6 separate regions of the Homo sapiens genome follow, and regions 1, 3, 4, 5 and 6 are each reported to be linked to region 2. The links are microRNA targets in miRTarBase. Many come from high-throughput screens and were not tested one by one. Region 2 holds a microRNA gene; each other region holds the end of a gene's coding sequence.

Region 1 (4,665 bases), not on the chromosome of region 2:
AGATTCCAGTTTGAACTGACTCTGGAGGAGGCAGAGGAAGAGGATGAGGAGGAAGAAGAGGAGGGGGAAGAGACAGCTTTAGCCAAAGAGGCCTTGGAGTTGCCTGACACTGAACTCCTGTCCCCTGAAGCCGGCCCAGACCCTGGGGACTTACCCCTCGACAACCAGAGGACTTAGGGCCAGCCCTGCGTGAACTGCAGGGGCAATGGATGGTAAAGCCCTTTGGCTCTTGGCAGGCAGACTTTCCAGGAAGAGGCTCCATGTGGCTCCTGCTTCACTTTCCCACCCATTTAGGGAGACAATCAAGCTCTTAGTTATAGGTGGCTCCCAGGGTCTAATTGGAGGCACCTGGCTGGGGTCCACTCTGACCCTAGACTTGCCTAAAAGAGCTCTCTAAGGGGCAGCCTCTTACGATGCCCTGGTGTCTTTCTCCTGGGCTTCTATCCCTGTGAGGAGAGGTGCTGTCTGCTGGAGCCTCTAGTCCACCCTCTCCAGTGGTCACTCTTGAGTCACATCTGTCACTTAATTATTTCCTTCTTTATCAAATATTTATTGCTCATCTACTTCGTGCCAGCTTTCTGCCTCTGTAGTAGCCCTGCACAAAGGGTGGGGAGTCAGGAGACCATCCCAAAGGCATCTCCCTGTCTTCCTCTACCAAGCGGCTCTCTGCAAGAGCATGGAAATGTGAGTGGGGAAAATTTTCAGCACCAAAGCTTCACTCATACCCAGTTTTGTTTCTGAAACTACGGTAGGGGGCAGGAAGAGGAGCAGAAAAGAAGGGCTGGGCAAGGCATAGTGGCTTATGCCTGTAATCCCGGTACTTTGGGAGGCTGAGGTGGGAGGACTGCTTAAGCTCAGGAGTTTGAGACCAGCCTGGGCAACATAGCAAGACCCCCACCATCTCTGAAAAAAAAAATTAGCCAGGCATGGTGGTGTGCACCTGAGAATCCCAGCTACTCAGAAGGTTGAGACAAAGGGGATCGCTTGAGCCCAGGAGTTGGAGGCTGAAGAGAGCTATGACTGCATCACTGCACTCCAGCCTGGGCAACACAGCAAGATCCTGTCTAAAAATAAAAAGAAAAGAGAAGGAAAGGAAAGAGACGGGGCTCTGAGGCCGAGCACAGTGGCCCATGCCTATAATCCCAGCACTTTGGGAGGCTGAGGCAGGTGGATCACCTGAGGTTAGGAGTTCGAGACCAGCCTGGCCAACATGGTGAAACCCCATCTCTACTAAAAATACAAAAATTGGCTGGGCATGGTGGCGGGTGCCTGTAATCCCAGCTACTGGGGAGGCTGAGGCAGGAGAATCACTTGAATTCAGGAGGTGGAGGTTGCAGTGAGCCGACATCATGCCACTGCACTCCAGCCTGGGCGACAGAGCAAGACACTGTCTCAAAAAAGAAAAGAAAAAAAAAAAAGCCGGGCCAGGTGGCTCACGCCTGTAATCCTAGCACTTTGGGAGGCTGAGTGGGGGTGGATCGCCTGAGATCAGGAGTTCAAAATCAGCCTGGCCAACATAGTGAAACCCTGTCTCTACTAAAAATACAAAAAATTAGAGGCTGGGTGCGGCGGCTCACACCTGTAATCCCAGAACTTTGGGAGGCCGAGGCGGGTGGATCACGAGGTCAGGAGTTCAAGACCAGCCTGGCCAACACGGTGAAACCCCATCTCTACTAAAAATACACAAATTAGCTGGGCATGGTGTTGGGTGCCTGAATCCCAGCTACTCGGGAGGCTGAGGCAGGAGAATCGCTTGAATCCGGGAGGCGGGGCTTGCAGTGAGCCGAGATCGTGCCATTGCACTCCAGCCTGGGTGACAGAGCAAGACTCCGTCTCAAAAAGAAAAAAAAAAAATTAGCCAGGCATGGTGGCAGGTGCCTGTAATCCCAGCTACTTGAGAGGCTGAGGCAGGAGAATCGCTTGAACCCGGGAGGTGGAGGTTGTGGTGAGCCGAGGTCGCGCCACTGCACTCCAGCCTGGGCAACGACAACAACAATAAAAAGAGGGGGCTCTGTGCCCGGCATGTCTCTGAAGACTGATTGAACCTATGCACCAGTTGTTGCTTTAAGTCGCTTTATTTTCTGTCTTTGGTGTCTCTGGATGTAGGAGCCCCCTGCTTTCTCTGTCCGCAGAACTCCATACTGGGTCCCCTACGTGTTCCTCCTTCCCTAGGACAGCAACAAAAACACACAATTTTCCCTCTCTAGCAGGTCTCTAAGTCTCCTGATTCCTGAAACTGCCTCAGACTCCCCCTAGAGGGAGGGAGGCCCCTGAGGCTTTCTTGCCATCATAGCCTCTTCTGGGCCTCAGTTTCCCCTCTGTAACCTGATCCTAGTACTTGGATAAACTCCGACGAGGTGTGGGGGGTTGTTGTCTGTGACCTCCCTGAAATATCTTAGACATTTGGGGTACTGAGCATTTATCTGGGGTTAAATAAAATCTTTACATCTTAAGACATTCGATTGACCAAATTGAGTGTCCTGGCCATTTCACTGATGAGGAAACTGAGGCGCAGAGAGGTCCTCTTGCCAGCTCAAAGTCAAGCATCTGGGCGCCCAATGTTAGCCAGCGGCACCCCCTGGTGGCGGGCGTGGGAGACACGGCGGGGCGCGCTTGTCGGGGGTTGGGGGGTGGGTCGGAGGGGTGGCATCCTCCAGCCCTGATGGTCCCACTTACCGCACCTCGCCGGGAAGAGCTCGTCCTGCTGGTCGGGCCTCCGAGCGGACTGGGCAGCACCATGCTCAAGCCTAGGGTTCGATCCCCGCCTCCGGAAGCCTCAGTATCCATCCCTCCCCTCTGCCTCCCTCTTCGCGTGCCTGAATATTTATACAAGATACAGGCGTCATCACAGCCGCCCTCGGCTTCCAGAGCAGCTGGCTTCGTTCATAAATATTATAACCACTCAGAATTCATCATCATCACAGTTAATGATAAAATTCCACAGTGCCAGAACTAAAAGTCATCCGGGTTCACGAACTTGGTGCATTTCCTTCCAGACTTTTAAAAAGAAGATATTTAGGGAATTTTTTTTTCAAGATTTTTCCCCCCAGTCCGCTTACAAAGTAATACCATGTTCGCTGTAAAAAATTTGGAAATAATGGAAATGTATAAAGAAGGAAATAAAATTCTGCTGTATCTCCACCCATGGATTATCTGCAGTATTTTGACTTATTTCCCTCTAGTTTTTCTCCATCTGTTATAAGATATTCATATTTTTGGCTGGGCGCGGTGGCTCACGCCTGTAATCCCAGCACTTTGGGAGGCCGAGGCGGGCGGATCACGAGGTCAGGAGATCGAGACCGTCCTGGCTAACAGTGAAACCCCGTCTCTACTAAAAATACAAAAAATTAGCCGGGCGTGGTTGCAGGCGCCTGTAGTCCCAGCTACTCGGGAGGCTGAGGCAGGAGAATGGCCTGAACCCGGGAGGCGGAGCTTGCAGTGAGCCAAGATCGAGCCACTGCACTCTAGCCTGGGTGACAGAGCGAGACTGTCTCAAAAAAAAAAAAAAAATTCATATTTTTTTCTTTCTTTTCTTTTCTTTCTTTCTCTGTCTTTCTTTTCTTTCCTTTTCCCTTTCTCTTTCTTTCTTTCTTTGCGTCTCGCCTTGTCGCCCAGGCGGGAGTGCAATGGTGTGATCTTGGCTAACTGCAACCTCCGCCTCCTGGGTTCAAACGATTCTCCTGCCTCAGTCTCCTGAGTAGCTGGGATTACAGGTGCCCACCACCATGCCCAGCTAATTTTTGTATTTTTAGTAGAGACTGGGTTTTCACCATGTTGGCCAGGCTGGTCTTGAACTCCTGACCTCATGATCCGCCTGCCTCGGCCTCCCAAAGTGCTGGGATTACAGGCATGAGCCACTGCACCCAGCCCTAGAATATTCATATTTCTTATAAATGAATATTCATATGTTCTCCTTCAGTTTGAGCCAAAGGCATTTGTCCCTCTCCTCTTACTGACTGCATCTGCTCTGGCCACACTGCAAGCCTGGTCCCACCACAGGGCCTTCAAACAAGCTGTTCCCACTACCTGGAATGCTTCTCTCTCAGCCCCCAGCCTCACCCATTAGATTTTTGTTTTTATTTTTGTTTTAGACAAAGTTTCGCTCTTGTTGCCCAGGCTGGAGGACAATGGCGTGATCTTGGCTCACTGCAACCTCTGCCTCCCGGGTTCAAGCGATTCTCCTGCCTCAGCCTCCCAAGTAGCAGGGATTACAGGCGACCGCCACCATGCCCGGCTAATATTTAGTAGAAATGGGGTTTCACCATGTTGACCACGCTGGTCTTGAACTTCTGACCTCAGGTGATCCACCCACCTCGGCCTCCCAAAGTGCTGGGATTACAGGCATGAGCCACCACACCTGGCCCCCACACTGGGTTTTAAGTTAGTGTCTTCTTCCCCGAGAAGTCGTCCCTGGACCCGTATCTGGGATACTTTTTTTTTTTTTTCTTGAGACAGAGTCTCCCTCTAGCACCTAGGCTGGCGTGCAGTGGTGCCGGTGATCTCAGCTCACTGCAACCTCCGCCTCCCTGGTTCATGCGATTCTCATGCCTGGGCCTCCTGAGCAGCCTCCTGGGACAGGCACCACCACACCGGGCTAATTTTTGTATTTTTAGCAGAGATGGGGTTTCACCATGTTGGCCAGGCTGGTCTCGAACTCCTGACCTC
Region 2 (4,840 bases):
TATATCAACAAAGAGGGTTTGTGTGTACTGTGATGGGCTTAAAAGCAGACTTCGGTTCAGAGTCTGACCAGATGCTGTACCCCTACCCCTGCCCAGAGGCCACCACACACACCTTCTCCTTCCTTCTGTCTCTCTTCTCTTGTCCAGGGGTTTGCAGGCTGATGATTCAGTTGGGCCTGTTCATTTAAGTAGTTTTGTACCTAATTTGTGGAATTCCATTGAGAACTGTGTGTAAGTTCATCATTGAGAACGTAATGACTGCTGAAGAATCATATTTGAATTTTAAATGTCATTAATATTGTCAAAGAGTTATTTAAAATATCCAGAAGTTTGTGGGTGTGCTGGATGTTGTGTTCCTTGGAGCGGAGCAGGCATAGGGTGGGCTGGCTCTGTACCCCCACCCAAGGCAGGAGCTGGTGCCAGGCTACCTGGGAGGGCCTGAAATCACTGATTCTCAGTACTGGACTGGGGCCATGGGCATGCATCAGACCCATCACAATAGCTAAGGAAGAGAGGAGAAACTGAGGTCCAAGGAGAGGAAGAGCCTGCCCAAGGGTGTGGCCTGCGGCCTCTGACTTTACCCCCACATGGCCTTGTTACTGTTTTGAGTCCGTGTGGCCATCTTCTCCTGCTGAGCAGCCCATCGCAGGGCAGCCGCCAGTTGTGGGTCCAAGTACAAATAGTTTTCCCTCAAGCAGCACTGTCCTCGGAGCCCATTACATGCTCAGCTCCTCCCCCTGGTGGCTAGCAGTGATTCCCCATCACCCCAGCAAGACTCTGGGCAAGAGCTGGAGTTTTCAGGAGCCCCATCCTCTAGCCAGGCAGTGCCACACTTTTTGGTTGAGGCCAGGCAGGTGATATTGGACCAAGATGCTGAAAATGTAATGACATTCACAGTGGAAAATAATGTGCTTTCCTGCTTGTGCTTATTTTAAGGAACCAAGGCATGCTTCATCATCCTCCTCCTGAACTGTTTTTTCCAATAACCAAAACATTGGTCTAGGCAGGCTTTTTTCTTGCTAAAATTTCCAGAGTTTTTTTGTTCCTTCAGACATATTAATTATAGTCTCTTTTTTCTCTAGCCTATTAGTAATGCTGATTTTATTGTTCCGGTTGAAATCGATGGAACTATACATCAGGTAAGAAACTGAAGCTAAATTTGAGTTTCAATTAAGATTTTTTAGTACTTACATTTCCTATGAACTTTATTTCTAAATTCTCATTTCAGTAATAACTTTATTACGGAATCAAAAGGAAGCATACTGTAATAAATACAATGTTTTTCTTTTTTTCACTCCAATGAATTTATTTTATACTGAGATTATAAGGAAACTATAGTCGTAAATATTAGATGCGGTTGCAAGTTCAAATAGTTCTTTGATTTGAATTTCAGAAGTTTCCGTATCCCCCACTGGCCTAGCTTGATGGTCTAATTAACTTCCTTGTGTAATTGCTTTCGGCTACTCTCCTAGCAGGCAACAGGAAAATGCCACAAGTCACCCACTTATGGTGGACTCTCGGGAAAAAGTGTCCATTTTCAATGCCAGCTGCTCCAGACTGATCTTATCATTCCTGCATCGTTTTCTCCAGAGAATCTTTAGCAAATACCCACCCCAAAAGAAAAAGGGGGAAGGGTGTGAGTTTTCGGATCCGCAGGCTGCTATGAATAAAGATGCCGTAGTCAGTTGGCATGCGTCTTCGTTGCTTCTGATTTTTTTTCCTTATCTGCATAAAGCTCTTCCGGAAATAACTTCATTTATGAACAAATTGGGAATGTTGTAGGAAAACTAGCTTTAGAGGTTGAAGCTGGGGGGCTTTTGTCAGATTTTCCACAGGGATGATCTAACCATCTTCCTTGTCAAGTCCAAGGTCTTAAAGGGAGCGTATCTGGCCTGATATCCCAGGAAGGAGACTTTCCTGGTACTTGAGCCACAACGGGATGTCTTTTCTTAGCAATGTCAGTAGTCTTTGGTTCTTGAGTGCAAGGTGTCAGAACTGGAGAAAGCTTGGGAATCAGCTGGTCCAGCTGCCTCATTGTCTAGATGGAGAAACTGAGGCTCCGCCAGGGAAGGGGTTGGTTAAAGGTCATACGATGGGAAGAATTAAAATGAAAATTCCAGTCTCCTGCCTCCTGGCCCAGGGCTCTTTTCCTGATACGCAAGTCCCTTCCCTCCCATGTCCTTGCTTTCTTGCTTATTCTCCAGGACATCCTGCCAGGAAACAGTCCCGGGGAGAGGCAGCTTTTTTCCTAGTGTTTCCACACTTCATGCTTTTAAAAGCCATCACAGAGCCAAAACGGCAGGCACTTGGGCATTTAACATTTGCAAAAGCATCAACTGAATTAACTCAGCATCTGAGAAGCAGTTAAGGCTTCTGCATTTATCATCTTGGCTTGTGTTACATAGTGCTCATGATGAGACAAAGGAGAGGCTGCCCAATGGCATAGCAAGAATTAGGAGAGAAATTAATCCTTTGTACCACGTGACTGTAAGCATGACTGGCCTGCCCACTGCTGACCCATTCTTGCAGGAGCTCCCCCACCCTCCATCCTGGCTGTGCTGTGATATCACAAGGTCCCAGGGCTGGGGTCAGAAATTCTCTCCCGAGGGAATGAAGCCACAGGAGCCAAGAGCAGGAGGACCAAGGCCCTGGCGAAGGCCGTGGCCTCGTTCAAGTAATCCAGGATAGGCTGTGCAGGTCCCAATGGGCCTATTCTTGGTTACTTGCACGGGGACGCGGGCCTGGACGCCGGCATCCGGGCTCAGGACCCCCCTCTCTGCCAGAGGCACCAACACCAGAGTTCACAAATCAGTCTCCTGCCCTTTGCATGTAGCAAAGCTTGCTTTCCAAGCAGGACTCCCAGGGTGACTGAGGACTACAGGCCACACCCGTTTGCTGGCAACGAGGAGTCTTGTGGGCAAAGTGGGAGTCTGCAGCTGTTGCAGCCACAGGCCCTGCCCTCAGCCCTACCCCAGCCTCCCAGCTCCTCAGAGCTGTGTTGGCACCCGTGCTACGACATCCTGTTCCTCCAGCCCCTCGCTCCACCCTCAGCCACAAATCCATGTCCACCTCCTTCTTTCAGTCACCCATGAATTTCCCACTGAGTCCTGGCCCTCCTGAGCTCCTGCTTCTGGCACCTTGAAAATGACTTGGTTCTGTATAGAATTCCTCGGCCAGCAGCACACCCAGCATGTGGTGCAGAGCCCTCATCTCCCCTCTGCTGCTCCTCCTGCCATTCTCACCTGCTCCATCTGCCATTCAAGGCCCTAATGTGCCCACTGTGACCTGCCTCTCACTTCATCTTCAGCCACTTCCTCTCCCAGACCCTGCTGCTCCGGCTTCTCTCACTACCTCTGATGGCTGGGCACACAGCCTGGCTACTCTCTAGCTTCTCAAGTATTCTCAGGCCTCGGGTCTCACCCTCTACTGTTTCCTCTGCCTGAAAGCCCACTTCTTCTCAACCTTATTGGCCTGGTGAACTCCTTCAAGGTCCAGGCCAAATGTTATCTTCTATGATCCCCTCCCCTTGTGAGGGGAGTTAATTGTCCTTAATTTATCCCTCTACTACAACTTTCATTATGCCATGTTTATTTTTATATGTTTTTGCCTATGTCTGTTCTAGAGTATGAGCTCTTCAAGGGCAAGGCCTGTGTTTTATTCATCTTTGCAACTACATCAGGCTGAGCTCAGAGCTGAGGCTCAGTAAACATGCTGAATTGAATTTTAAAGAGTTTGATTTATTTTAGTGAAGTGGCTAATTTCAAACGGAATTTATTCAAGTTTGAATTAGTTCTTCCCTCCTCCCACTTCCTCTGTCTTCTCTCACCAGCTTTGCCTTCTCTCCCATCTCCCTTGTTTCCCCAGATTCATTCAGGCTCCCTAATCAAGAACCTATGTATGGTCTGAAGCCTGGCCTCCTCACTGCTACCCCCTGGCCTGGCCTGGTCAAAAGGGTGCACAGAGCCCAGCCATTCTAGAAAAGGCTACTCTTTGCACCCCTCTGCTCAGAGACCCCTCCTGATGGATTATGTCTGGGGTCCAGGAATAGCGATGGTTTCACATCCCCTGAAACATACCAAGCCCACCCTTTATGGTGTCATAGACAGCTTCCCAAGCTGACAAGGAAGCCCCTTCTTGCAGCTTTGCTGGGCCTGTGCTTCAACCCCAGACCTTCCTAGTAAGGGGGATGTCCATCCAGAACAGAAGGTGGCAGCCGGAGCAATCCCAGACCTGCTGGGCAATATGCTGGGCCTGGACCTCTGAAAGGACAACACCCAGACCGTGGCCCGTGCCCACACAGGTCCTGACCCTCAGCAGGTGCCAAGAAACACACGTGAAATGAATGAGTCATTACACACAAACATGGTACAACCCTTCCATTTGCTGGCCCTGAATATCCCCAAGACCCTCACACCATGGTCAGCTTCTCTTTTTCCCTTAGGAGGGGCGTCTGCAGTGAACTCAGACCTGGAGCCCTGTCTGAGGAGTGCCACGTCTGACTCCATAGCCCCTCATACAGTCTAGGCCTCTGCCTGCTATGCATAGACCTGGGGGAGGGAGGCAGGAACCTTTGTAGCAATTCTTCCTACAGTGGGCATTTGGGCCCCAGGCCATCCCCAGCAACTGCCACATCTGACCAGCCTGCTGTCTCCTGCCATTGCAGGTGTATGTGCTGAAGCGGCCACATGTGGACGAGTTCCTCCAGAGGATGGGGCAGCTTTTTGAATGTGTGCTCTTTACTGCCAGCTTGGCCAAGGTGAGTCCTGCTTCCCAGCCCCACACTCCCAGCCTGGTACTCCCAGCCCCTCCACCCCTACCCCCAATCTGTCAAGCAGCCCTT
Region 3 (4,840 bases), not on the chromosome of region 2:
TATGGCACTTTATGTTTTAGAAATACGTTTTAGAAACCCACTCCTGCCCTAGAGGCCATACAGACACAAGCTTGCTCAGGAGGGTGGACCCAGGAAGTAATCTTTCTTTCTCTATCCTGACAACTACACCAGGAAGTGGTTAAGCCCTCACATTGTTGTTTCTCTCTCTTTAGAATCAGGATTCAGAATAAGCAATTTCCTTTTTCATTTTCCCATTTCTCTCCAACACACCCTGAAGGCCTGCAGAGCAATGATGAGCTCACACTGCCCCCTCCTGCCCATTCCCTCCCTAACAAGGAATATATTCATTATTCCCTGGCCCTCATTTGCTCCCATTCCTGTAAAGAAAGAAAAGCAACAGAATGCCCCCACAAAAGTCAAATGTCTTTATTTTATATAAAAAAAATTTGTACAGTTTTAGTTCCTATGTTTAAGAAAAAAATCCTAAAATTGCCGTAATGTTTAGATCCACTGCAAACTGTAGAAACAAGCTTTTTATATATTAAAAAAAATTTACATTTTACAATTTTCTACATGCATGCACAAGGTCTCAGCTCTGTAACCCCACCCCCCCAAAAAAAAGGAAAAAAAATCTAGATCCAACAGTGGAAAATTCTACATTTACAATCTCACTTGGAAGGGACTCAAAAAGCCCTCTTCCTTTTGCGCACGGAAGAACAAATCACAACAATCACACACCAGGACTGAATCCATCAGCAGATACTGCCCTGTGGGAAGGGCAGAGGAAAGAGAAGACAGACGGACTGACAGACACCACAGAGGAACAGGGGAGTTAGCCTGGGACCAATGGAGGAGAAGTACGAACCCTGGGAAAAAGACGTGTCAGATGAGAAAGTTCCGGAGAGTCCGATGTCTCATCGCAGGTGTTACATCATCAGGGTTTGCCATTGGAATACTGAGTGGAGATGGGAAAGAGAAAAGTTAAGGGCTGAAATGGGAGGGGAATGGGAAGAAAAAATGAGAGACAAGAGGGAAATAAGAAAAAACAAAGAGAGCACAAAGACCAGTTTAGGAGAAAGGACCAATGGGGACAGTGGCAGAGTGGCGAGGTAGGTGAAGGACTGAGGCACAGCGTCCTGTTGTGGAGGGAGGAAAGGCAAGCGTTCCGAGGTGGTGAAAAGGAAGGCCTGCTAGGCACGGTGGGGATGAACGAGGATGCCATGAGTCACACAAAAGACAGTGCTGGTGAGGCCCAGCCACAGCAGCCCTATGGTGTCAAGGGGGTAAGAGGTGGGCATACCCCCACAGCAGGAGAATGAGCAGATCCAGCGCATGATGGGACAGACACAGTGGGGAAACTGCTCAGAGGGACTGAGTCAGCTGCACACCCCACAGCAGTTCACAGCATGGAGACAACTTCCCACAGGGGAGAAGCAGAGGACAAACACATGGCCATATGTCTGACAATTCATCCTGACATTTTAAAAAACAATAGTAATAATAATAATAATAATAATAATAATAATGAAAAAAGACAAAGATACCACAGTTCTGAAGCAAAAGACCAAAATGCTACCATTCTCAGGCACAGCCCTTAGTGCTTAGAGAGTTGGAGGCAAAAAATTTTTTTTAGGAAAGGGGAATGAAAAAAAAATCACAGTGATTAAAAACATGGCAGGATCTTAAAATAAACACTCCCCAGCCCCTAACCTAGGGCAGCAACTAAGATCCCAAATCCTTTCCCTCTCCCCCACCCCAACCTGCTCCTCAGACCACACCACACTCCATCCTGTCCACAAAGGCAATGACCCCAGTCACCATCCAGGCCCTGTTTTCCAGGATAGTGAGGTATTTATGTGACTCAGAAGGGACTCTCTGACACAAAGTTTTTGAAGAGAAGAAAAGAGACAGACCCCCAGAACAGGACATATTTCATACAGGCCTATCTCATAACCCTGGCCCCAGCCAGAGGCCCTGCCTAAGTGAGCTCCACAACCCACCCCTTTGGGGACAAGGTAAGCATTGGCCAATGAGCTCCTCTCTAGCATGCGGTGGGTAAACAAGTGAACTTTTGCAGAAAGGACAGCAGGAGAAACCCCGATCACTAGGCTCCATCATTCCCAGGGCTGGTGCTACACAGAGGGGGAGCCTCCCAGGGGAGACACTGGGGATCTTATCCCAGGATGTGCTCTGCAAGGTAAGTACCAACCAGTCTTTCAGGGAAAAGAAGGGCCTACAAAAGGACACTGTGAGTTACTCAGAGGAATGGCCTAGTCATTGCAGCCATCAGAAAGGTCCTCCATGTGGATCCTGGCTGGATGTATATGGGTACTTCCTAATTCTACTCTCCTTGGCAAAAATGTCTGAGTCAAAGGCTCAGATTTATATTGAAAATATTTATTAGAGGGCCAGCAAATTTTGCTCAAAATGAGATCTAAATTATCAAGAATTTGGATTTGGTGCAAAGACTATGGAAGCTAAAATGGGGTGAGGGGTGAAGTACCTACAAAAGGCAGTAATCCTTGCCCCTCAACCCAATACAGACGGAGCCCAGAGCTCAGAGAATCAGGCAGGGAGAAAAGGGGTGGGGACCCTGGAAGGCCAAGGAAACGAGACCCCTGAGGCAAAGAACTGGACTTAAGGCAGGGGATGAGGAGGAGCTGCCGGCTCTTCCCCAAAAGAGATGAGGCAACAGGTCTCTGGAGTCGAGAGAAGGCGGCAGGACAGGGGTGGCTGGTGACAAAAATAAAAACATTTGTCTAAGACCACAGGGGCTGGGTCAGGGTCTGCAAGCCACTATGTCTGTACAGGAGTCTACATACCATCCTTCACTGGGAAGAGCGGGGACGAAAGTGAGGGTAGGGTTAGGGAGCAGGAGTCAGTGATGGGGGTCTCTCCAAAACCTCAGGGATCTATTCAGCCCTCCTCCTCAGGGGCTGCCTAGGAAGACACATTGGAAGAAAGGTACCTTCCCCTAAGTCCCTGGAAAAGTGGTCACAGAGGGTTTCCACGTGGTTGCCTATGGTCACGTGACCATACAAACCAAAAACATTAGGTGGAGATTTCTGGGAAAAGGATGGGATCCTTCTTTGCTCTAAATATATGTGGAAGCAAATGCTCCTAGCAAGGAGATTTCTAACTCGGGCTGTGTGGCAGGAGTATCCCTGCCCTAGAACCCAGGGTTTGTTGTGGCTGGGGTGAGGGACAGGAGGGCCAGTTGCTGCCCTGGAGGAGTTTGGCACTGTGGCTCTCTGGAGTCATGTCCATGTGCCCCAGAGAAACCCTGTTGGGCCACTGAAGAGAAATGTTTTAAGAACTTGGATTTGTGAGTCGGGGCTCAGGAGGGGAAAGTACAATCAGCAGGGCCCTGTGCCCTTTCAGGAGAGACTGTAATCTGGGAAAAGACTAGGGAAAGAAGAGGGAGAGAGGCACTGATTCCTGCAGGGCCTAGAGTAATACAAAAGTTGTTGGTGAGGTGGGAGTCCTTCCCAGGTACTGTTGACAGCAGGATGGTCTCTCCAGGTTCACATGGGGTAAAATAAGGAAGAAGCGAGGAGAGAAGGTGGGGGTGCGTTAATTCAAGTAAAAAAAAAAGAGCAAGAAGAAGAAGGGTGGCAGGAATGTGGCTGGGCCTGAGAACCAAGCCCCCTCCCACCCCCTCAGGACCCCCCAGAGTTTCCCACTCCCCCTGCTGTTGCACAGTCACACTGAGGTCTCAGACTGCAGCCTCATGACAAACTTGTGTGACTTGGGATCCACAAATTCCTCGGAGAGTTTGAAGAATGGGACCTTCTTGGTGCTGACCACCAGGCTGAAGTCCTGGCGTTTTAAGAGGAAAACGATGCCATCCTTGAGGCCGTTGGTCACCGGCTCCTCGCTCACCAATGTCCACTGTTTGGCCAGCCAGCGTTCCTTGTGGTACTGGATGGTAGGTCCAGCCGCCAAGTATCGCTCCAAGAAGGCCTGAAGTGGAAAGAAGGGGCTGCATAAGAATCTCTGTCATCTACCCACGGTCCTTCATCCCCTAGGTCATAGTTTCCAAAGACAAGAAGGACGTCCCTGAGCTCACTCTATGCATATGAACTAGAACCTCAGAATGTTACAGCAGGAAGGGGCCTGAGATCATCTGCTTCAGACCCTCATTTTATAAATGAAGAAGCCGGAGTGCACAGGGGGATGTGGCTCATCAGGTAGGACTGAACTCGGCTCCCCTGACCCCCATCTGCTGCTCTTCTCCCTGCACCAGGCTGTGACCTGGGCAAGCCCTCCCTCATTCTTCCTTCCTTCCCACACAGCTTGTATGATTCGTGCCAAGCAGGTCTGCACCAGGAGGGAGCCAAAGGTGTCAAGGTTAAAGTGCAACATCTTTAGTTACCTGCTCACCAAGGGTGGCTCAGGGAAAGCAATTCTAGGAAGCTGGCAATAGAGTTGAAGGTGGGCAATGGCTCAAAATGACACAAAGCCAAGACCAGCTAGTGGAGGTGAAGAGGGTAATGGAGGTGAAAGTGGGCCTTTGGATCTGGTAATTCCGGAGCCCTCATAGAGATGAGAAATAAGTCTCAGCCATCCCCAAAATGGTCCTGAGGACTCCCTTCTCCTCATCTACCTAAAGACTTCACCCCACACAGATGGGGCAGGTGGAATAGGAATGAGAGAGAAGATTATAAAAAGGAGGTGGTGAGGAGAGAGAAATGAGGTGGACAGTGAGGAAAGTAGTGAGAGAATAAGGGAAAATGAAGGTGGGAAAGAAGAGGAGCTGGGGAAGGAGGAAGGATGCTGGCAGCAGGGCAGGCCTACCTTGGGCGTCATGTCATGCGTGATGCAGAATTCAAGGTGCTGCAGGATGCTCTCCATGGTGTGGTAGGGCTGCTGCTTGGTG
Region 4 (4,840 bases), not on the chromosome of region 2:
GAGACAACATGGCACAAGGGAAAAGCCCTGAAGAGGACAAAAGATCAGCTTTCAAAATAGGTGTGGTAAGGCTGCACAGTTAAAAATGAAAACACAAATAAGCACATTTACATCACTGCTGTTCAAGTGCACAATTGAGATGGATCCAATCACTTTTCTAAAGAATCTTCACACCATTCAAACGTTTCTGTTCAAGTAAAACCAACCAATAAAAACAAATTCAGAGAGAAGACGTGTTCATCTCTTAAGCCAACAGCATCACCTGTCTGAAGACCACTCTGCCCGACAAAGTAGTCCAACGTGTTGCTGAAGTTCCATTTGGTATAAAAATACAGCTTTTTTTCACCATCAACTCTGCCCAGGCCTTTACTGTTTAACAGCTGCCCATTCAGAGAGACTGAAGATCGAAGTATCAATGTTAGAGGTTACAGCTGTCTACCTTCTAAGCAAAAGAGCCCGGATTCATAGGAGATACTTTGCAAGATCAAAGGAGACTCACATTTCAGGTTGAATTAGATGTGATGTTAATGTGTGATACATCAGATCAGGTGGAGCTGTCATTTTTGTAGATCAGAACTCATCAAATAGCAGGGTTTCATACAGTTTAACCTAATATAATTTAGCATTGTAAATTAATTTAAGCACACATCTCCCTATTATCTTTTAGGACTCAAAGTTGTAAGACCTAAACATGATGGCAAAGTTTTATTCTTTGGAGTGAAAATTTAGACCAGCATTGTCCTACGCCGTATGTGGGTGCTGAGCACTTGAAATGTGGCTAGTGTGACTGAAGGCACTGAGTTTCTAATTTAAATTTCAGTCACATGTGGCTAGGGGCCATTGTACTGGATGATATAAGTTTACACATAATTGTAATTTGCTCCTTGTCATGTTAAAGTGTTTAGCAGATGTGTTCTGGGAAGATGTGGGATTTATCCAGTTAATATTAAAATGGAAATGGAGCTACATCTGCTCCCACAACTTCAGATATCCAACCTGAGGGAAAGCCACCAGACTGTTTTTATATCATAAACTTAAAAAAAAAAAAAGGTCAAGATGTTTTTAATAGAACAGGCTGGGCGTGGTGGCTCATGCCTGTAATGCTAGCACCTTGGGAAGCCAAGGTGGGTGGATCACTTGAGCCCAGGAGTGCAAGACCAGCCTGGGCAACGTGGTGAAACCCCATCTCTAGTAAAAATATTAAAAATTAGCTGGGTGTGGTGGTGCCAGCTACTTCGAGGCTGAAGTGGGAGGATCGCTTGAGCCTGGGAGGTTGAGGCTACAGTGAGCTGTGATCATGCCACACTGCACTCCAGCCTGAGGGACAGAGTAAGACTCCATTAAAAAAAAAAAAAAAAAATTGCCAGAAAGTCTCGTTGGCTTAACACAAGATACATTTTGTCCCTTGTGGAGAATTGGTAGGCTATGTCTACCAACCCCCACCGCCCCCAACCAAAAAAAAGAAAAAAAAAAAACCACCACAGGACTGTCTTAGAACACTTGTAGAAACCACAACTGCTTTCTTTAAATGGGATTCTGGTTCCAAATTTGAATCTTTGAGTTAAATCTGTTTTTTAAAAACAAAACTGTCTGGGCGTGATGGCTCACGCCTGTAATCTCAGCACTTTGGGAGGCTGAGGCAGGCGGATCACCTGAGGTCAGGAGGGAGGTTGAGACCACCCTAGCCAACATGGTAAACCCCCGTCTTTACTAAAAATACAAAAAAAAAATTAGCCAGGTGTAGTGGTGGGCACCTGTAATCCCAGCTACTCAGGAGGTTGAGGCAGGAGAATTGCTACTCGGGAGGCCGAGGTTGCAATGAGCTGAGATCGTGCCACTGCACTCCAGCCTGGGCAACAGAGAGAGACTCTTGTCTCCAAAAACCCCCAAAAAACAAAACGAAAACTCCACTTACTTACTCCAACAGTATTTTCAACTTGTCCTATCAATCAGGATAGGCCAGAGAGAGGTGTTAAAACCCAGAGCAGCGAAGATTCTAAATTTCCTCCTGTGGAAGCACACCCCCCAGTGATAAACTGAAGTGCGGGTGATGATCCAAGTAAATCCCAGAGGGTCACACCTCAGACTCAGATGCCAAACACAAGCAGTAAGTAAGTCTATAATGGACATGTCGTGACTTCCAGTGGTACAACTAAGGGGGAATGAGATACTGATTCAAAAGGAGGCAGACGCCATGGCTTTACCTCACTGGTAACACCTATACCATGTCAGTGAGTCACAGCATTTTTTTTAAACATTACATGTATTTGGTCTTTACTCCCATCTTACCTCCCCGCAAACAAGTATGCCCCAAAACCAAAAAAACCAACAAAGAGAGTAATTCTTGTATTTGCAGGACAAGTACAACTGAACCAACAAATTTATTTAGTTAGTGCTGATAAAGACAGCAGCCTTGAGAGACAAGCAGTAATTACCTGGTCTACTTAATGATGCCCTTTGTTATATTTTACAGGCAAAAAGAATGATTCCTCAGCAGTCATTGTGAAATTTTGTGGGCCACAAGTATTGTGCACACATGATCCTTGATTTAGAGTCAACCTGATGTCCATTATAGCTGTGGAAAGGCAGCAGGCAGTTGTGTCGCTCTTCACAATAAGGAACACATCTTGCTTTCAGCATGTGAGAGGAACAAAAGCATTGATGTAAATGTGCCTCAAAGTGAGAACTGAAAACATTAACATAAAATAAAAAAGTCAAATAAGACTAAGTTCTTACAACTACCTATAAAAATTGAATTATTACAACTAAAGCAGCAAATCAAAACATCTGCTGAGGTTTTCTGGTAGAACAACAACAAAATTAGTTGGTGCCCATGTTCAGTAAGTCACTACCATTGACAAAACTAAATCCAAAATAGGAAATTGAAAAGTGCATAATGAAATTAAATCTTGTATCAAGTATTTGTGGAAAACTGGAAATGTTTCTCTGGTATGGTTGGTGAATGATGATTTGGAGGAGGTATTAAAGTTTATCCGATCCAGCTTTGGCCTGGTGTTCCACGTAGAAAAGGATGTAGGCCTTCGCCTTCACCACAGTCTCCTCGTCAGTCAGTGTTACAGTACTGTCATTGAAGTGGAACCAGCGGCCTTCGTGAGTTGCGTATGCTGTGTAATGTCCAGAACCAACCCTGTAAAGGCAAAAGACCAAAGGAAAAAAGAACCTCAGAAATCACAAAAAGACCTGTACAACTATATAATGTTAGATTTAAATTTTAATAAGAATACATCCTAGACTTTTGATTTAAGATGCTTGTTAAATTAATGTTTTTACCTTCCTCCAAACTGACCAGAAATCGAGGGTTTGCTAGAACACAAAGCAGATGGCCCTGGACTAATGGAGAAAACAGAGATGAGGAACTCGCAACCTAACAAGCACAGGTCAAAGCCTACGGAAACATGGAAAACTAGGTACCAGGTTTTCCCATCAGAATCTTAGGAAAAAACTAAGCTTAACAAAGAAGGGCACCCTTCCCTGACACCGTGGTCATCAGGGGCTCTACCCTATCAGCATGACCCACCCACTCACACACACAACCCTGGAGTCAGTCCTCCAAGTCAGACGGAAGGCCTGCAGCTAGAACAGACCTTTGTAGGTGCCAGGAAAACCCTATTTAAATAATAAAGATCCATCTCATCATTTACTATGATTCCAAATAAACCACCAAAACCAAATTTTAAAAACAAGCCTTTTGCACGCCTACAAAATCACATTTTTGAGGGGAAAGAAATACCGGGAAGAACAAGCAAGGCAATCAACCCTGAGGAATTGAATGCAGAAAACCTAAGAGAACTTTACATTTTTAAATTAGTGCTAATAGTTTCAAAAAGATAGTGCAATCATAAAACAAGAATAGGCTGTTACGAAAAAGTTGTCAGAAAAATGTGACTGATTTAATATAAATATTTTATGGAGGAGCTTATCTTTTATTTGGATACAGATGAAACCCAAATTGGTGATTTGGAAAAGTAGGCCATGGCAGTCTTTAGAAACACAGACAGAAATCATTAGAGTATTTAAGACATGTGGAAGGGAGATCCAGGAAATTCACTATGCATATAATAGGGGTACAGAGAACAAATGATTTCAGACCTACAGTATAGAGAGTTTCATGAGCTGAAGGCACCAAATTAAAAGTGTCCCTACCAACTACCAAGCAGGAATACACTCCAAGGAGAAAAAAGCCAGGTGCCTGTAAAGTAGTGAGAATCAGACTTGTCATTCATAACACTATGTGAGTGTAGACGTTACTTTATCACAGCTCTGCGGGAAAAGGATTTTCAACATGGATAGTCGTCTGCCCACATATAGTAGTCTTAAGTTTGAAGGTAAAATAGCCACTCTCAAACCAAAAACCAGAAGGTTAGACCCCTCATACAAACTTTCAGGGGAAAAAATTAATGTTTTTTAACAAGACTTAAAATGAGTCTTTAAAGTAGATGATATGGAGTAAGTTATTCCAAGTAATTTCCCCTTTTGCCCCATTTAAATTTCAGTTGGTAAACGAATAAGCAACTTTGGAGTTTGTGGACAAATAAAGACTGGGTCGTAAATACTGGGTTCAAATGAACCATTCTTCATTTCACTTTTATTTACCTTCCCTTAAGCCTTCACAACATCATCTGAGGAGTACTCTTCCGCACCAAAACTGAAGGAAATTTCACCTACTTTATCTGAATCCATTTTTTAGGAAGAACTAGCAAGAGTGGTACAAAACTGCAGGTCATTGGGCTGGCCACCAGGTATTCCCACCCACCAGAAGCTGGCTGTTGTACTCACCCGGAACCATGGTGCACCACCACAGCGGCGAGGTCATACAGGC
Region 5 (4,571 bases), not on the chromosome of region 2:
TCGCATACAGCAGTGCAGTGCCGTTATTCCAGTCTCCGTAGAAACGCTGGGACTATGGCGGAGCCGACTGGGCTGTTGGAGATGTCCGAGCTCCCCGGAGATAGCAGTGTCCCACAGGTGGGCACCGCGAGTGGCGTCAGCGACGTACTGCGGGGGGCAGTCGGCGGCGGGGTTCGGGTGCAGGAGGCTCGGGAAGGCCCAGTGGCCGAAGCTGCGCGGTCCATGGCGCGGATGCCGGGCCCTGTGCCCGGGCCCATCCCCAGCAGCGTCCCGGGCCTGGCCTCCGCGCCAGACCCCCATCAGCAGCTCGCTTTCTTAGAAATTAACCGGCAGCTGTTGTTCCGCGAGTATCTGGATGGTAGCTCCATGATTCCGGTCAGATTACTACGGGATTTCGAGGAACGCCGCAGGCTGTTTGTGGAAGGCTGCAAGGCGAGGGAAGCAGCCTTTGACGCGGATCCCCCGCAGATGGACTTCGCTGCTGTCGCGTTTACGGTAGCGCTGACTGCCTCCGAGGCCCTCAGTCCTCTGGCCGACTGAGTCGGCTGTGATGATGACATTGGTGGCAAGGAATAGCCAAGTGACCCTTTTGGGATCAAAAGAACAGGCAGGCTGTGCCAGTTTAGTTAACTCAGTCATTAGGGGGAATGCAAACTGGAAGGGAATACGGCAATGTGCAATTGAAGGAGGAAGCACACTCCGAAATGGAAACAGACAAGACTGTTGAATCTTGTTTTCTTTCTTCTTTTTTAGTATTATTTAAATAGAGAAGGGAGTCTCGCATCCCTAGGCTGGTCCCGAACGCTTGGACCCGAGCGATCCTCCCGCTTCGGCCTCCCAAAGTGCTGGGATTACTTTACAGGCGTGAGCCACCGCGCCCGGCCGAATCTTGTTTTCAAACAGGTCCCAAGACACTTCTGACTTAGCACTTTGTTAGCAATGCATTTTCCTGCATTTGTGAAGAATCCTTCATGACTTTCACCATAAAGGATGGTTTTGCAAAGATATGAGAAAAAAAAAATGCCAATAACAGAACCCATAGAAATGAACCTAAGTGATGAAAGAAAACAAAGAAATAGAGTTGTCAGGAATCCAGGTGTACCTGAGTTACTAGGATTGGAAGGCTATTGAGAGGACTTTGAAATTTCACAATTTGTGGTCATGTCAACAAATCCTAGTGTAAGATTCATATTTGTGTTTTCTGAGGTACTTTAGATGAACAGTAAATATTCAATAGAAAAAACCACGTATTATATGATCAGTGTTTTCAAGTCTATGTGAAATTGGGTAGGTGTGGAATAAACTTGTTTTTTGTTAATTTTAAGCTTTTTATTTTATTCTAGAATATGTATTCTATTCACAAGACTCAACAAAAAAAAGTATCGGCCGGGCGCACTGGCTTACGCCTGTAATCCCAGCACTTTGGGAGGCCACGGCGGGTGGATCACCTGAGGTCAGGAATTCAAGACCACCCTGGCCAACATGGTGAAACCCCATCTCTACGAAAAATAAAAAATTAACTGGGTGTGGTGGCACGCGCTTGTAGTCCCAGCTACTCGGGAGGCTGAGGCAGGAGAATCACTTGAACCTGGGAGGCGGAGGTTGCAGTAAGCCGAGATCACGCCACTGCACTCCAGCCTGGTCAACAGAGTGGGACTCCGTCTCAAAAAAAAGAAAAAAAGTATCAAAAGATGCTGTGAGAAATCTCTCTTGTTGCTGTCCTTTGCCAAACTCAGAACTATTCCATGCAGGTGCCATTGCTTGTGGCTTGGAGTTTTGTTGTTGTTTTCTTGGTTTTGCTTGTTTTTTGCTTTTTCACTGTACGCCTTTCAGGTTTTCTAATGCATATGCAAATAAACATCAATCTAAATATTGTGCATTTTCCCTTTTAATATCAAGGTAGTTAACTTGCATCACGAGGTATAAATTTTTAAAAATATAAAATCAAGGTAACATATTGTATACCTCTATCAGCATCTTGGGTTTTTTCAGTTATATATGGAGAGATTTATATATCAGGGTTTTTTTTTTCTTTTTTTATATATAGAAACAGAGATGGGGCCTCATTATGTTTTCTAGGCTTGTCTCCAACTCTTGGCTTCAACTGTTCCTCCTGCCTCGGCTTCCCAAAGTACTAAGTGCTGGGCGTGAGCTACTCCACTGGGCGTTTTTTTTTTTACAACTACAATGTAAAGCCTTATCTTAGTATAATGAACTAGACACCTTTTGGACATCTGGGTTGTTTGCAAAATGTTTTAACATTTTCTATGCATTTATACGTGTTTACTCGTTTTCCATAATACACTGTTTTTTTTTTTTCTTTTTGAAACAGAGTCTTGCTCTGTCACCCAGGCTGGAGTGCAGTGGTGCAATCTCAGCTCACTGCAATCTCTGCCTCCTGGGTTCAAGTGATTCTCCTGCCTCAGCCTCTGGAGTACCTGGAACTACAGGCACGTGCCACCATGCCCGGCTAATTTTTTGTATTTTTAGTAGAGAAAGGGTTTCACCGGTTAGCCAGGATGGTCTCGATCTCCTGACCTCAAGATCTGCCTGCCTCAGCCTCCCAAAGTGTTGGGATTATAGGTTTGAGCCACCGCACCCAGCCACCTTATTTTTTGTTTGTTTTTGTTTTTTTTCTGAGACGGAGTCTCACTCTGTCGCCTGAACTGGAGTGCAGTGGCACCATCTCAGCTGACTGCAACCTCCACTTCCCGGGTTCAAGCTATTCTGCCTCAGCCTCCGAGTAGCTGGGACTACAGGTGCACCACTGTGCCCAGCTAATTTTTGTATTTTTTTAGAGAAAGGGTTTCACCATGTTGGCCAGGCTAGTCTCGAACTCCTGACCTCGTGATCCACCTGCCTCAGCCTCCCAAAGTGCTGAGATTACAGGCGTGAGCCACCGCACCCGGCCCCACCTTGGTATTTTTAATGTGTCACCAGAGTGCTGTCCTTGGGGCTCAACCAGTTTACCTTCCATTCAGCCAGGGATAGTTGTGCCTCTCGCCACGGCCTGGCTAATCTGACAGCTTTGGAAGCATCTGACAGTAAAAGATGGTTTCTCACTATGGTTTTAATTTGAATTTCTCTAATTACGAGTGAGGACGCATGTTTTCAAATGCTTAAGAGCCATTTGTTTTCATTTCTCAGCGAACTATCTGTCCATATTCTTATTTTTTATTGGCTTGTAAGTTATGTGTCAGTCACTAAAGAAGTTAGCCCTTTGTGATGACATGGAATATAGTTCACAGCAGTTCAGACTGCTGTGATCCTTTTGCCATGCAGAAAAATGTTGGGTGGGCGTGGTGGCTCACTCCTGTAATCCCAGCACTTTGGGAGGCCGAGGCGGGCGGATCACAAGGTCAGGAGATCGAGACCATCCTGCCTAACACGGCGAAACTCCGTCTCTACTGAAAATACAAAAATTAGCCGGGCGTGGTGGCGGGCGCCTGTAGACCCAGCTATGCAGGAGGCTGAGGCAGGAGAATGGCGTGAACCCGGGAGGCGGAGCTTGCAGTAAGCCTAGATTGAGCCACTGCACTCCAGCCTGGGCGACACAGCCAGACTCCGTCTCAAAAAAAAAAAAAGAGAAAAAAATTTTTAATGTAGCTGTGTATATTCAGTTTATTTCTTTTGCGGTTTCTAGACTTTGAGTCATGGGGCCGGGTGTGGCTCACTCCTGTAATGCCAGCACTTTGGGAGCCCGAGGTGGGCGGATCGCAAGGTCAAGAGATCGAGACCATCCTGGCCAACATGGTGAAACTCATCTCTCCTAAAAATACAAAAATTAGCTGAGCATGGTGGCGCGCACCTGCAATCCCAGCTACTTGGGAGGCTGAGGCAGGAGAATCACTTGCACTCGGGAGGCAGAGGTTGCAGTGAGCCGAGATCATGCCATTGCACTCCAGCCTGGTGACAGAGCGAGACTCCATCTCAAAAAAAAAAAAAAAAAAAAAAAAAAGAAAGGTCTTTGCCACTGCAGGATCATGAAGGAATCTGGTTTTTTGTTTGGTTTTTTTTTTTTTTTTTTTTTTTTGCCTCAGGTTGCACCCTACCTTCCCCCCACACTCATGAATAGTTTTAAGTTTTAAATGTTAACATTACAATTTTTATTCATTTGGAATGTTTTAGGTCCTAGTAGTGCTAGTCCACCCTCATTGCTCTTCTTTTCCAAAGTTTTTCAGGCTGTTCTTTGATTTTTTTTTTCTATTGTGGAACTTTAGGATCATCTTGACTAGTTTCAATTTTTACAAAAGCTGTTAGTATTTTTATATAGGTTGCATTCAATATATATACTGTTGAGTGAGAATTGACATCCTCACGATGTCATCCTATCCAGTAATGTGGTAAGTCTTTTCATTTGTCCCCAGATGTATTTTAAAGTTTCCTTCATATAGGTCTTGCATATTTTTGTTAAAAATATTCCAAGGTTTGTTTGGTTTTCTGTTTGTTGTTTATGGCTATTGTAAATGAGGTTTTATGGTGTGTAAATTTGAATGCTATCTTTTTTTTTTTTTTTTTGGTGCTCTATTAAACTTACTCTATTCTCTTATTGTTTGCAGTAGCTTTTCTTT
Region 6 (4,840 bases), not on the chromosome of region 2:
CACGATATTCAAAGGCAGAATATATGAGAACTGACCTTTTCTTGGAGAACATCCCAGTTAGATCCCATTTCCACAATATGATTACACTTTGAAATCTGGCTTTTCCCTGTTCTTTCTTTAATCCTCTGATATTTTAAATTCCTGTAATCTCTGCTATTGCCACTTTAAACCTCATTACTGAAAGTTCTTCCCACACTGAAACACTTCTCAGAAAAAAAATGCAGAATATAGAGCAGAGCTATAATATAAACTTAAACAGACCTGCTAGTTTTAGCTTTCTTTTCTAGTATACATAATTTAGTTTACTTGATCCAAAGGATCTTTAAGAAACATGTTTTGGTTTAATTTCTGTTTGTTTTGTTTTTTTTTTTGAGACAGGGTCTCACTGTGTCACCCGGGCTGGAGTGCAGTGGCGTGATCTTGGCTCACTGCAACCTCCACCTCCAGGGTTCAAGTGATTCTCCTGCCTCAGCCTCCTGAGTAGCTGGGACGACAGGAGTGTGCCACCACACCCAGCTAATTTCTTTGTATTTTTAGTAGAGATGGGGTTTCGTCATGTTGGCCGGGCTGGTCTCGAACTTCTGGCCTCAAGTGATCTACCTGCCTCAGCCTCCCAAAGAGCTGGGATTACAGGCGGGAGCCACCACGACCGGCCTGGTTTAATTTCTAAAACTTACCTACTAATCGACTTAGTTCTGCAATAAATATAGTTACAATCATTATAACTAGTATTCCTTGGGCTGGTTTAAAGATGTTCTTTAGCATTTGAGATGAAAGGCAGAAACCACAGGTAGGATCATGTAAGCTATGGAACCAAAGGAAAAGCCTGGAAATGCAACTTGGAGTCCTGCTTACTCTGTATCCTTGGAAAATCCAGATTGTGAAAGAAAAGAAAAAGATCATTTTCATCCATCTTTTGACAGCTTTCTACTTTGACACTTCTTTCCTCTACAGTTCCAACAGAAAGCCCAAGGCTGACTTTGATTTGCCTGACTTGGGTATGTTCCCATCCCTGCCTCAATCATTAACTTACTGGCCTGAGTCTTAGTGATGGGGTCAGCCTCTCCTCAATCCTATGAGCTTGGAACAGGAAAGGAAAATTGGAGAAGAGGAAAGGGATTCTGGACAGTCAAAAATAATTAAATATCCACTCTCTTCCCAAAGCTGTGTAATGGGAGAGCACTGTCCTTCAGCCAATAATGCACTAGCAGCTAGATTCCTTAGCTAGACCTTCTTCCACTGTTGAAGCCTAATCCCTCTGTTTTGCTGCAGATACCTGTTTCCGAAGTTTACACTGTGCTGGACTGAGTTTGTAGACATGAAGGTCCATGTACCCTGTGAAACCCTCGAATACATTGAAGCCAACTATGGTAAGACCTGGAAGATTCCTGTAAAGACGTGGGACTGGAAGCGCTCTCCTCCCAATGTGCAACCCAATGGAATCTGGCCTATTTCTGAGTGGGATGAGGTTATCCAGTTATATTGAGATAGTAGGTTGAAATGGGAGAATTTCTCTTTTGGAAAAAAAGGTAGATAACTGTTTAAAAAATACATGTCTATTTGTCAAACATAAGTGGGAACCAAAGAAAAAATGTGACAAGTTTGAAGACACAGAAAGAGTCATCTGATGTAATTCTCTCACTTAGTACTGAGGAATTTTCATGTGCCACATACAATGCTAGGTTACAGTGGAGAAGCCTAGATGAATGAGACAAATACCTACTTCTTTTATTCCTCCTTTTGGTAAACAACTCAATTTTCCTTTGAGGGAACCCTCCCCCACCCTTTGAAGAGTTCAAGTTCTGTACAGGTTTTTAAAACGTGAAGTAATGTTTGAACTGGAAGATGAGCTCACCAGGCAAAGCTAAGGAAGGATATACTAGTTGAAAAGAATAACCCACTCCTCTTCTGGGCATTTAAGCTGGTATGTTAGTGCTACTTTTAAGATTGTGGAGTCTGAGTTAATATTCAAGTGATCAGACTTTGAGTGACATCAAGAAAAGATGATATCAGGTTCATTTTTCAACTAATCTTATGTGGAATTGAATTAGAGAACAAGGCATTATTCTTTTAGGGAAGGTGAGAGCTTATTTGTATCAGAGCTTATTACTTGTCAGGATAAGTAAATTTCTGTACATGTACTGTTTTCATATGTGAAGTGAGAAGAAACTTTATGCTTGTTTAATGCTTAAATTTCCATCCATTGTGAGAATATTTTCACTGACCTCTGATGGCACTTGTTGACAAATCATTCAAGTGAGACCATGTTACTAGACATGATCTTGAAAGAGGCCATGATTTCACAAAACTCATTTTTATTTTATTCTCAGACAGTCTGTTAGGTAAAAATATGAGAAATTCATGTACATTTTATATTTTCTGAATTTATAATCTGTGCACTCCCAATTTTAATGACACTAAAATATTAATAGAATTTTTTAAATATACTCTAATTTTTAAAACATACTCTTTATTATCTTCATTTATCAATTACAGCTTCGTATCTCTAATTTATGGTCTATATACCAATTTAAATGGCATGTAAACCTGCCTGTTTCTTCTCCTCTTCTAATATATCAGATCTCCAAAATGGAAGCTAAATGGTGGACTTGACAACTATTCACCCTACCTCAGATCATAGAGTTTGTAAAGTTTGTGTCCCTCCCCAGTTTTTCAGTCTGTTGAATGTCGATGGGGCAAGAACTCAGACTTCTACTTTACCAAGTACCACACACTCTGGAATGCTTTAGTTTCCTTTTCCCCTCAAGATGTCTGAGTCAGCTAGGATGCTGTTTACCCCATCTCTCTCTTATATCACTTGAATGATATATTGTAAGTGAGAGGTAAAGGAAAATGTAGGCACAATAAGCACTGCTATTTTTCTCTTTGTCTAGGAAAGGAAGCTGAATCTTATATCTTATCTATGCTATTTAGGACTACTTTCTGGAGCTTGGCAGATTTTCCTCTGACACCAGAGAACAATAGTAGTCTCAAGAATGGAAACCTGAATGTCTGAGGGAATGGGCTGGTAGACTTTTTCGAAAACAAATTAGAGAAAGTAACTTACAACCACCCATTCCGGATTTGTAAAGCAACATGAAAACCTTTGATAAATGATAACCAACAGTCTTCTGTCCTAATTTGCATTCTCAATGCAGAATTATTGGGTCTTTCATAAATAACATGAGTGGTTTCTGGAGACATTTAAGATTGTCAGCAAACTTGTCCCAAAATGGCACATCATCATAATCCATTTTCTCTTTGCTAGAAAATCAGCCCATAGAGTGCATTCCCAAATTCTAAATAGCTGACCCTAAATTCATTTTTCATGCTTAAAAATAATAGAACAAATAATAATACTATTTTTGGGCAAAATCCACCCTACTTGATGAGGACCATTTGCTTGTGCTCAGTATTTAGAAATGCATACACTCCACATTTCTCCCCATTTCCAATTGGGACTCCCATTCTTTGCCAGGAGATCTTACCCATCCCTTTTCAGATTAATCTTTTATCCTTTCCTGAAGTACAAAGTCTTAAGAGTGTCTGAAATCCAAGACATCTTGGCCCAATTGACACAGGTTCTATATTCTTCCCTACATAGACCACTGGCTGCTGAAATACTTTTCTTGTCTTCTGGTTTCACAGGCTTCAGCTCATGGGTTCCACCCTAACTTGGGGAAACAAAAGCCTTCTCTAGAATCTGAAGGCCAGGCTTACCTCTGATTCTGATTCATCCATACTTCATCTTATGTATTTTAACAGTTGGGTTCTGTGGAGTGTCCAGAGACCTTGGGTTAGGTATATCCATCTTCAGTACCTCATTGGATCACTTTTCTTTCATCACTTGAGTATTCTAGCAGTCATTCTCCTAATCTGACCACTTTCAGGTTTAGTTTACCTGGCTTACCTGGGGAAGTTGACAACTTGTTGGTAGTTAGGCACCCATGAATGTCTCCAGAGACATCCTGAGAGGCAAGATTCCTCTTAATTGATAACCAGGACAACCAGGTAGTCACCCAGTCCTCTCTAAGCAGGGAGCACTTGTCCTTCTCTCCTCTGCTGCAGCTACTGATATCTGGCCCCTGGAATAAAACCATAGTTCCTAAAATTGAGCATCCCTAAGAGTAGCTGCTTGGTGGGACAGCTGATTTCTTTGATTCCCTAGCTGCAAAACCTGAAATTGACCACTAGGTGACAGAATGTTTGCCAGTATCCCCACAAAACAAGTTAAAACTTAAGTGAAAATCATTCTGCTTTTGAATCTTAAAAGCTAGAAAAACCATAATGTAATATTCTTTTTAAACCCTCTTATTTTATAACTAAATAAATAATCACAGAAAAGAATGATCTGAACAAGAACAGCTGAGGCTAAAACCCAAGACTGCCGTGACTCCTAGTCCAATGTCTGTTTCGCATCACAACACAGTATCTTTAACAGTGCTTGAGATGCTTAACAGAGAAGGCATCCAGTGCTTCATTGAGGCTAAGTCTCAGGGTGTTTCTGCCGCTTAGTATCTTTTTGTTCAGATTGAGAACCTAAGGCGACAGAGAGGTCAAGGGGAAGTATTTTCTAGTTCAGAATTCAGAATTCTTAGGCAACCTTCATACCTTTATCTGGAAAATGCCTTCTCTCCAGACAATAAGACAGTTCACATCTGGAGACATCAGCCTTTGGTACCTAATTCTCTAAGCTCAAGATGCATCCCATTGCCACTTTACCATTCTATTTCCCAAGGGAACCATCAGCACCAACCTGCTAAATGCCTGTATTTGAAGTCTCTCCCCTTCCTGAAGTGACCTTTTATGAGGCTCTTTCCTTCCTAAGGGACCTTTCCCT

Evidence for each region. Region 2 holds the annotated microRNA hsa-miR-26a-5p (UUCAAGUAAUCCAGGAUAGGCU, at 2,670-2,691, shown strand). A microRNA usually pairs through its seed, bases 2 to 8, with sites in the 3' UTR of a target mRNA and lowers its output. Matches are read on the target gene's strand: a 7mer-m8 pairs with bases 2 to 8, a 7mer-A1 pairs with bases 2 to 7 and ends in A, and an 8mer does both.
Region 1: miRTarBase lists PDE4C as a target of hsa-miR-26a-5p. Seed matches in the 3' UTR shown: 7mer-A1 at 1,310-1,316 and 7mer-m8 at 1,892-1,898.
Region 3: miRTarBase lists VANGL2 as a target of hsa-miR-26a-5p. Seed matches in the 3' UTR shown: 8mer at 3,539-3,546.
Region 4: miRTarBase lists USP3 as a target of hsa-miR-26a-5p. Seed matches in the 3' UTR shown: 7mer-m8 at 2,915-2,921, 8mer at 191-198 and 7mer-A1 at 122-128.
Region 5: miRTarBase lists EID2B as a target of hsa-miR-26a-5p. Seed matches in the 3' UTR shown: 7mer-A1 at 1,581-1,587.
Region 6: miRTarBase lists FKTN as a target of hsa-miR-26a-5p. Seed matches in the 3' UTR shown: 7mer-A1 at 2,817-2,823 and 7mer-m8 at 3,383-3,389.

The regions. Positions count from the first base shown.
Region 1 is chr19:18,206,441-18,211,105 of GRCh38, reverse strand. It overlaps PDE4C (phosphodiesterase 4C), which reads left to right. Exons shown (of 15, transcript NM_001098818.4): 15 at 1-3,141. The coding sequence ends at 177. Among named protein-coding and RNA genes, the nearest start is that of RAB3A, 4.7 kb to the right of the region's middle.
Region 2 is chr3:37,966,744-37,971,583 of GRCh38, forward strand. It overlaps MIR26A1 (microRNA 26a-1), which reads left to right and starts at 2,661; the gene lies at 2,661-2,737. It overlaps CTDSPL (CTD small phosphatase like), which reads left to right. Exons shown (of 8, transcript NM_001008392.2): 5 at 1,083-1,139; 6 at 4,664-4,756. RefSeq lists enhancers at 2,331-2,894, 2,895-3,456.
Region 3 is chr1:160,424,202-160,429,041 of GRCh38, reverse strand. VANGL2 (VANGL planar cell polarity protein 2) reads right to left here. Exons shown (of 8, transcript NM_020335.3): 7 at 4,759-4,840; 8 at 372-3,924. The coding sequence ends at 3,664. Among named protein-coding and RNA genes, the nearest start is that of VANGL2, 26 kb to the right of the region's middle.
Region 4 is chr15:63,588,969-63,593,808 of GRCh38, reverse strand. It overlaps USP3 (ubiquitin specific peptidase 3), which reads right to left. Exons shown (of 15, transcript NM_006537.4): 14 at 4,798-4,840; 15 at 1-3,148. The coding sequence ends at 2,983. It overlaps USP3-AS1 (USP3 antisense RNA 1), which reads left to right. Exons shown (of 3, transcript NR_034080.1): 3 at 4,709-4,840. Among named protein-coding and RNA genes, the nearest start is that of FBXL22, 6.0 kb to the left of the region's middle. RefSeq lists an enhancer at 2,145-3,344.
Region 5 is chr19:39,528,286-39,532,856 of GRCh38, reverse strand. It overlaps EID2B (EP300 interacting inhibitor of differentiation 2B), which reads left to right and starts at 5. Exons shown (of 1, transcript NM_152361.3): 1 at 5-1,870. The coding sequence starts at 55. The coding sequence ends at 540.
Region 6 is chr9:105,633,779-105,638,618 of GRCh38, forward strand. FKTN (fukutin) reads left to right here. Exons shown (of 11, transcript NM_001079802.2): 11 at 1,273-4,840. The coding sequence ends at 1,486. Among named protein-coding and RNA genes, the nearest start is that of TAL2, 26 kb to the right of the region's middle.